2 separate regions of the Homo sapiens genome follow, and region 1 is linked to region 2. The links come from fine-mapping of genetic effects on gene expression. A gene starts in region 2. The other region holds a variant in brackets. All regions are shown on one strand. Distances are from middle to middle.

Evidence for each region. PIP is the estimated chance that this variant, and not a neighbour inherited with it, causes the effect.
Region 1: its variant is the best candidate, but not a certain one, in a credible set for the expression of KCNT1 in hippocampus (GTEx, PIP 0.61).

What each region holds. Positions count from the first base shown.
Region 1 is chr9:135,779,805-135,782,700 of GRCh38, forward strand. The region is part of intron 24 of KCNT1 (potassium sodium-activated channel subfamily T member 1); the gene reads left to right. Among named protein-coding and RNA genes, the nearest start is that of KCNT1, 79 kb to the left of the region's middle. The variant G/A (reference allele first, on the strand shown) is at 1,002.
Region 2 is chr9:135,701,019-135,703,914 of GRCh38, forward strand. It overlaps KCNT1 (potassium sodium-activated channel subfamily T member 1), which reads left to right and starts at 1,167. Exons shown (of 31, transcript NM_020822.3): 1 at 1,167-1,350. The coding sequence starts at 1,241. It also overlaps a transcript of SOHLH1 not described here. RefSeq lists a silencer at 966-1,095.

The DNA.
Region 1 (2,896 bases), 79 kb after region 2:
GTGGGGAGCCCTCAGATCGGTGGTTCCACATAGGTTGGCCAGTAGCTCTTAGTACAGATAACGCACACGGCTGCACCATTCCAGACTTCTCCGCTGCCCTGGCCACTACGCCCGACCTTGAAACAGGTTCAGTATAACCACTGCCTCCTTGTATTGACAAGGGACGGAGGGCCTGAGAGGGAAGGGGCCTGCCCCGGATCGCACAGTGGAGCAAGTGGCTGAGCTGGAATTGGCTTTCTGCCCTTGGAGCTCCATGAAGGGCACCACCCAGGGTCAGGTGTGGAACCCAGGGGCACGGGCACTGTTGCTGTTGCCTTGATATCTGGCTGACCCCAGCCCCACCGCATTCCCCACCTGCTCAAGCTGGGACAGCACCACCTTGTCCACACGGGGGCTGGTGCCCAGGCAGCCCTAGGCTGAGAGCAGGGAGCAGGCACCTTGGTCAGCAGCAATGCTGTCTGCTCTACACGAACCCCGAGCTCACCGGTCTGGGCTGAAGTCCTCATCGGCGAGCTGCTGGGACCTGCGTGGCTGCAGGATTGTGACACCGTGGAGGATCTACTGAGCCAGGCCCGGCCTGGCCACCAACACCAGGCAGAGGACACACACGGGCACTCCCTGCGACACGGACATGGCTTTGTCCCACCTGAACCCGATGGAGAGTGAAAGTGTGTTCCGGCCAGCCGTGGACCAAGAGCCCATAGGGATCCTGGAGTCAGTTCTGCCCCAGAGAAGCGAGAGGAGGCCGGGCTGGGCAGCCACCAGGTCAACAGGGGCTTCTGCCTTAGAGATGCCAGCCTGAGGCGTAGGGGGATGCTCGGGCACCTGGTCTCAGCACAGGAGAGGGCTCTGTCTGCCCTGCCCGCCGCCCAAGCCCACCCTGGAGCCTGCCCTGCCCAGCGTCGGGAGCTCCTGGCCCCAGTCCCCGGCTCAGCCGGCAGAGGGGTGTGCTCTGCAGCTGGAACCACGGAAGGGGAGGAAGTTCACAGGATTCTGTGTTC[G/A]GGTGCCGGGCCGCTCCCCAGGGCTGGGAGGACTCTCCGGATCTGGAAGACCAAGTCTGACCCTGTGTGGACAGGGATGCTGCCGTGGAGTCGGGGTCGAGGCAGTCATCCTGGCGCGGCTCCTCCGGCCTCAGCCTTGCACCTCTCTGTCCCACAAGGTGGCTTGAAGTTTGGGTCAGCAAGCACGCAGCCAACACGCTCCTGCCCGCCTTCCCGCCAGGCAGCCATCGCCAATCACCCACGCTCCGCCCCGCCGTGGGGCCCATCTCTTTCCCCGGCTTCACCTCCACTGGGGCTCTGTGTTGCCGGGGCGGGTGCGGCCAGCTCTCCATCTCAGAGCAGTGAACAGTCCTGGGCTCCAGCTCCAGTCATGCGATTCCGTGGCAGTTGTGTGACAGGGACCAAGGAGAAATCAGGACATCGGCAAAGCCTCTGGAAGCAGCCGTGAGCTCCTCTGGGCTGACATGGTGCTGGGGTCCATGTGGGACAGATGCCCTGGGCCCTGGGCAGGGCCAGGCATATACAGAGACGTGGAGCCGAGGGAGGAGAGGGTGCCGTGGACCACCTGACCCATCACCCTCTGCAGAGGCTGGGATCCGCCTCCCCAGCATGCAAGGAGCCTGTAGAAGGCACCAGGGGCTGCGTCTTCTCCAGCCTGGGTGGCCTTGGCCCCAGATCCCCCATGGGTCTCTCTGACGGGCCAGCATACGGTGACCTGCTTCCAACAAGGACACCTGTGGCAGCTTCAGATCCTTATTTAAAAGACATTAATGCCAATTTATTATAAAAATGTACATGTTTAGTATGTATTTTACTTCAAAGAATACTGAAAGTAAAAAAAAAAAAAAATTGAAGAAAAGTTACCCCAAATCCCTGCAGCCAACATCTTCTACATCCAGGCCCAGTGGAAGGATAAAGACAGGATTCCAGGCACGACTCCGGAAGGAAAAAGGGAGGAGGTGGAGATGGCATACACGACCGTCAGTGAGATGCTCTGCCAGGTGCAGCGGCTCATGCCTGTAATCCCAGCACTTTTAGAGGCTGAAGCAGGAAGATCGCTTGAGGCCAGAAGTTCGAGACCAGCCCAGGCAACATAGCAAGTCCCCATCTATACAAAAAATTTAATGGCTGGGGGCGGTGGCTCATGCCTGTAATCCCAGCACTTTGGGAGGCTAAGGCGGACGGATCACCTGAGGTCAGGAGTTCGAGACCAGGCTGGCCAACATGGAGAAACCTCTCTACTAAAGACACAAAAATTAGCCGGGCGTGGTGGCTGTAACCCCAGCTACTTGGGAGGCTAGGGCAGGAGAATTGTTTGAACCCGGGATGCAGAGGTTGCAGTGAGCCGAGATTGTGCCACTGCACTCCAGGCTGGGCGACAGAGCGAGACCCTGTCTCAAAAAAAACCAAGCAAAAAAATGAAACTATTATTAAGGATGCTGCTGGTGGGGTGACATGCATCTCCCCTTGAGGGCTGGCTCCAGAAGGCTCTCAGAGCCCCGGTGTGTGAGAGGAGTCTCTCCCCTGAGGCCCACCTCCCCTGCCGTCCACCTCCCCTGGTCTCCAGCACCCAGGACTCCTCCACCACTTCATTGCTTTCACATGGTCAGCCTGTGTGATCTCTCCTCCTCACCAGGAGCCTTCCTTCAGGCTGGCTCTGCCCATCCTGGGGCTGCACGGTGCCTGTCCTGCTCCCTCTGACCGGGGGTCTCGTGCTCAGGAAGGGCTCATCCGCTCCTGTGTGCTCCTGTCTTCACTGTCACTTGTGAATGGCACCCGCTCAGCCCCTGCTGAAGCCCTCCTGTCCAGAAAGCAGGAGGAAATCTCTGGAAGGTCCTGAAACGTCCAGCTTTTTCTTTCCTTCCACGTCTCTCTCTGGCCCTGTCGTGGTTCTT
Region 2 (2,896 bases):
TGAGTTCCCCAGGCAGGAGGGCGTTGGCAGAAAGGCCACCATCTTGCCCCGGCGGCACCCGCCCAGGGGTGGTGGGACCCCGGCAGCAGCACCGGCCAATCTAGGGACCTGAGGAAAAACCCCCAAGATGCCCACGAGCTGTGTGGCGGGGGCACAGGCTGAACCTCTGCTGGGGACTTAGCATCCTAGACTTCCCCGAGTGTTCCCCACCCACCCCTCAAAAGCATCTGTGTTCAGCCTGCTGCCTCCTGGAGAAACAGGGAAGGACCCTCTGGAGAGACACTGGGGAGGCCAGGGACCACAAAGTACATGGCATGCGCCCTCCAAATGGACCTGGCCCTCCCCCTGGCCCTCGTGGGCACAGTCCTGGCTTAGTGAGGGGCCTGGTCCACCCTGCAAACCAACAAAGCTCTGGGGACAGAAATCGCAGTTCTCCAGAGCTCTGTGTGAGGCTGAGCCAGGGTGACGCATGTGTAACAGTGTGAGCACGTGCACGGGAAAGGGGGCCCGCAGGGGGACCCTCTGCTTCCTAGTCTTTGGCCTGCAGCATCTTAAGTTGGGGCCCCTCCCCACCCGTCTAAAGGTGCTGTGTGTGCCCGTCTGGGTGAGAGCACAGGGCGGGGTGCAGTCATCCCCCTCCCCCAGGCCAAGCCCAGGATGTGGCGCCCACCCACAGATGCCGCAGCCTGCGGGGGGTGTGGGGGCGGGGGGGCGGGGAGTCGTCTTGAATCTGGCTTGTGTTCAATGACCAGTGTTGACCACGGCAGAGCAGCACAAGCGGGAGGTGCTGACGGTCCCTGGGCGCAGCGGCTGGACGCTGGCGGTCCGAGCAGCGCATGTGCCCTGCTGCCCGCCAAGGACCCAGAGCCCCCTGAGCCCCCGCCCACCACGGAGCCCTCCCAGGGGTGTAGGGCCCGGTGGCGGCGCGCTTGGGCTTTTCTAGCCATTGACGAACCCCGTCCTGTTTTTCGGAGTTTTGAGGGCTCAGAGGGCCGCGGCGGGAGCGGATCGCCCTCCCTACCCCGCACCCCCGTCCCAGCCTGGGCCAGAGCCGCCGCGGGTCCCGGCGCGGCCGGCAGGGGGCGCGCGCGGACAGACGCCTGCACCCGACCCTGGAACTGGCGTCTTTTCCTCGCTAATCTGCGAGGAAAAAAAAAATGTTTTTCAGGGCAACGCGAGGGAAGAAGGTGGCGGCTCCCACTCGCTTCTCCCTCGGGTCGGGTCCGAGCTGCCAGGCCGCATGCCACTCCCTGACGGGGCGCGGACCCCGGGGGGCGTCTGCCGGGAGGCGCGCGGCGGGGGCTACACCAACCGGACCTTCGAGTTTGACGACGGCCAATGCGCCCCCAGGTACAGTCTGCTGCGCCCTCCCCACGCGGGGAGGCCCCGGTCTAACCTAAGACCCCCAAGTTCCCCCTCAGGCTCCCGCACCCTCCAGGACCCGCCATTCCCAGGGCCATCCAACTTCCCCAGGACCCGCGAGTGCCCTCCCAACCACCTTGGGGAACAGGGGCGCCCCTCAGGGTGGGCCGCACTAATCAGCAGGTGCCGAGGCAGCAGCGTCCGTCCCCATCTGTCCTCGACCTGGTAAGAAGCTGGGGGGAGCGGCCGTGGCTACATGGGGGTCCTGAGCATCTCCCAGGTGTGGGGAGTGGCAGGGAGGCTGGGGGCGGTGCAGGGCCTTCCATCTCCCCCAGCCCCTGCCCCACCCCAGCTTGGGGAGGAAGGTTCCATCCTTCTTGTGTGGCATGGCAGTGCTCGGCCAGGGTGGGGTGCCCGGCGAGGTTACCCCACACAGTAGGGGGTTTCCAGAGCAACCTTCCAAGGAAGAGTCCCCAGTGGGAAGTGGGCTAAGTGGCTGTCAGATGAGGGCGGGAGTCCTGGGTTCTGGTCACTCCTCGTTCCCCGCTGGCCTATCCCTGGGAGGAGAGGGCCAGTTGAGAATGGCATTCAGGTGACCTGGAGCTAGCTGTTCCCTGTGCAGTGTCCTGGGATGCCATGCGTCTGCCGTCCACCCAGTGACCAGTGCAGAGGCACGGACCGGCAGCTGAGTGGGACAGTCCTGAGCGGAGGTTGCCCCAGGGTCCAGGTTCCCCATCCTCTCCCCCATCCCTCAGCTCTTGAAAACAGGCAAGTCTGCCCCTCACCCTGTCCCCAGAGCCAGACTCCAGGGAACCCTGGGCAGAGCCGGTCACTGCCTTGGGCGAACCCCTCCCCACCAGGACAGAGCCCTTTCTTCTGGATCCTGCCCAGTCTCAGGCTGTCCTGAGGCCAGAGAAGGGGGTGGAAGAGCATACCTGAGAGCGGGAGGCCTGGTGCGGCTGCCTGTTTGTTCTATGGGACTCAGTTTCCCCGAGTGTAAAATGAGGAGGTAGGGCGGATGGTCTTTAAGGGCTGCCTCTGGTGAGGGACCAGGCTGGAGAGGAGGTTCCCAGAATCAAGAGGCAGGCACAGCACCCACCTGGCACCCGGGGGAGTCCGGGGTACAGCGTGTGTGAGGAGCAGGTGCTCTGAGGGTGGACAGTGACTTGGTGATGTCCTTGGGAAGTGGGCACAGCCTGGACGTGCTCTGAGGGACTATCCGGGGGATGCCTGTCAGGCACAGAGAAAATGACCCCAAGGGGGTCCTGGATTGCCCTCATCTTTGTGGGCTGGCCGGCCCCTACCATCTCCCTCCCCAGCCTAGCGTTGCCCTCCCTGGCCATTCTGCTGGAGTTTATCACCTACCCTGCTGGGCCTGACCTGCTCCAGACGAGCCGGCAGGACAGTGTCCTCAGGGTCCAGCCTTTAGCTCCAGGCCTCATCCTCCGGGTCCTTCCAGACACCTGTCTCTCCCAATTGGCCCTGCCCACCGGCCCGGGACAGCTCCTCCTCCCCGCTGGACTGAGCTGGCCTC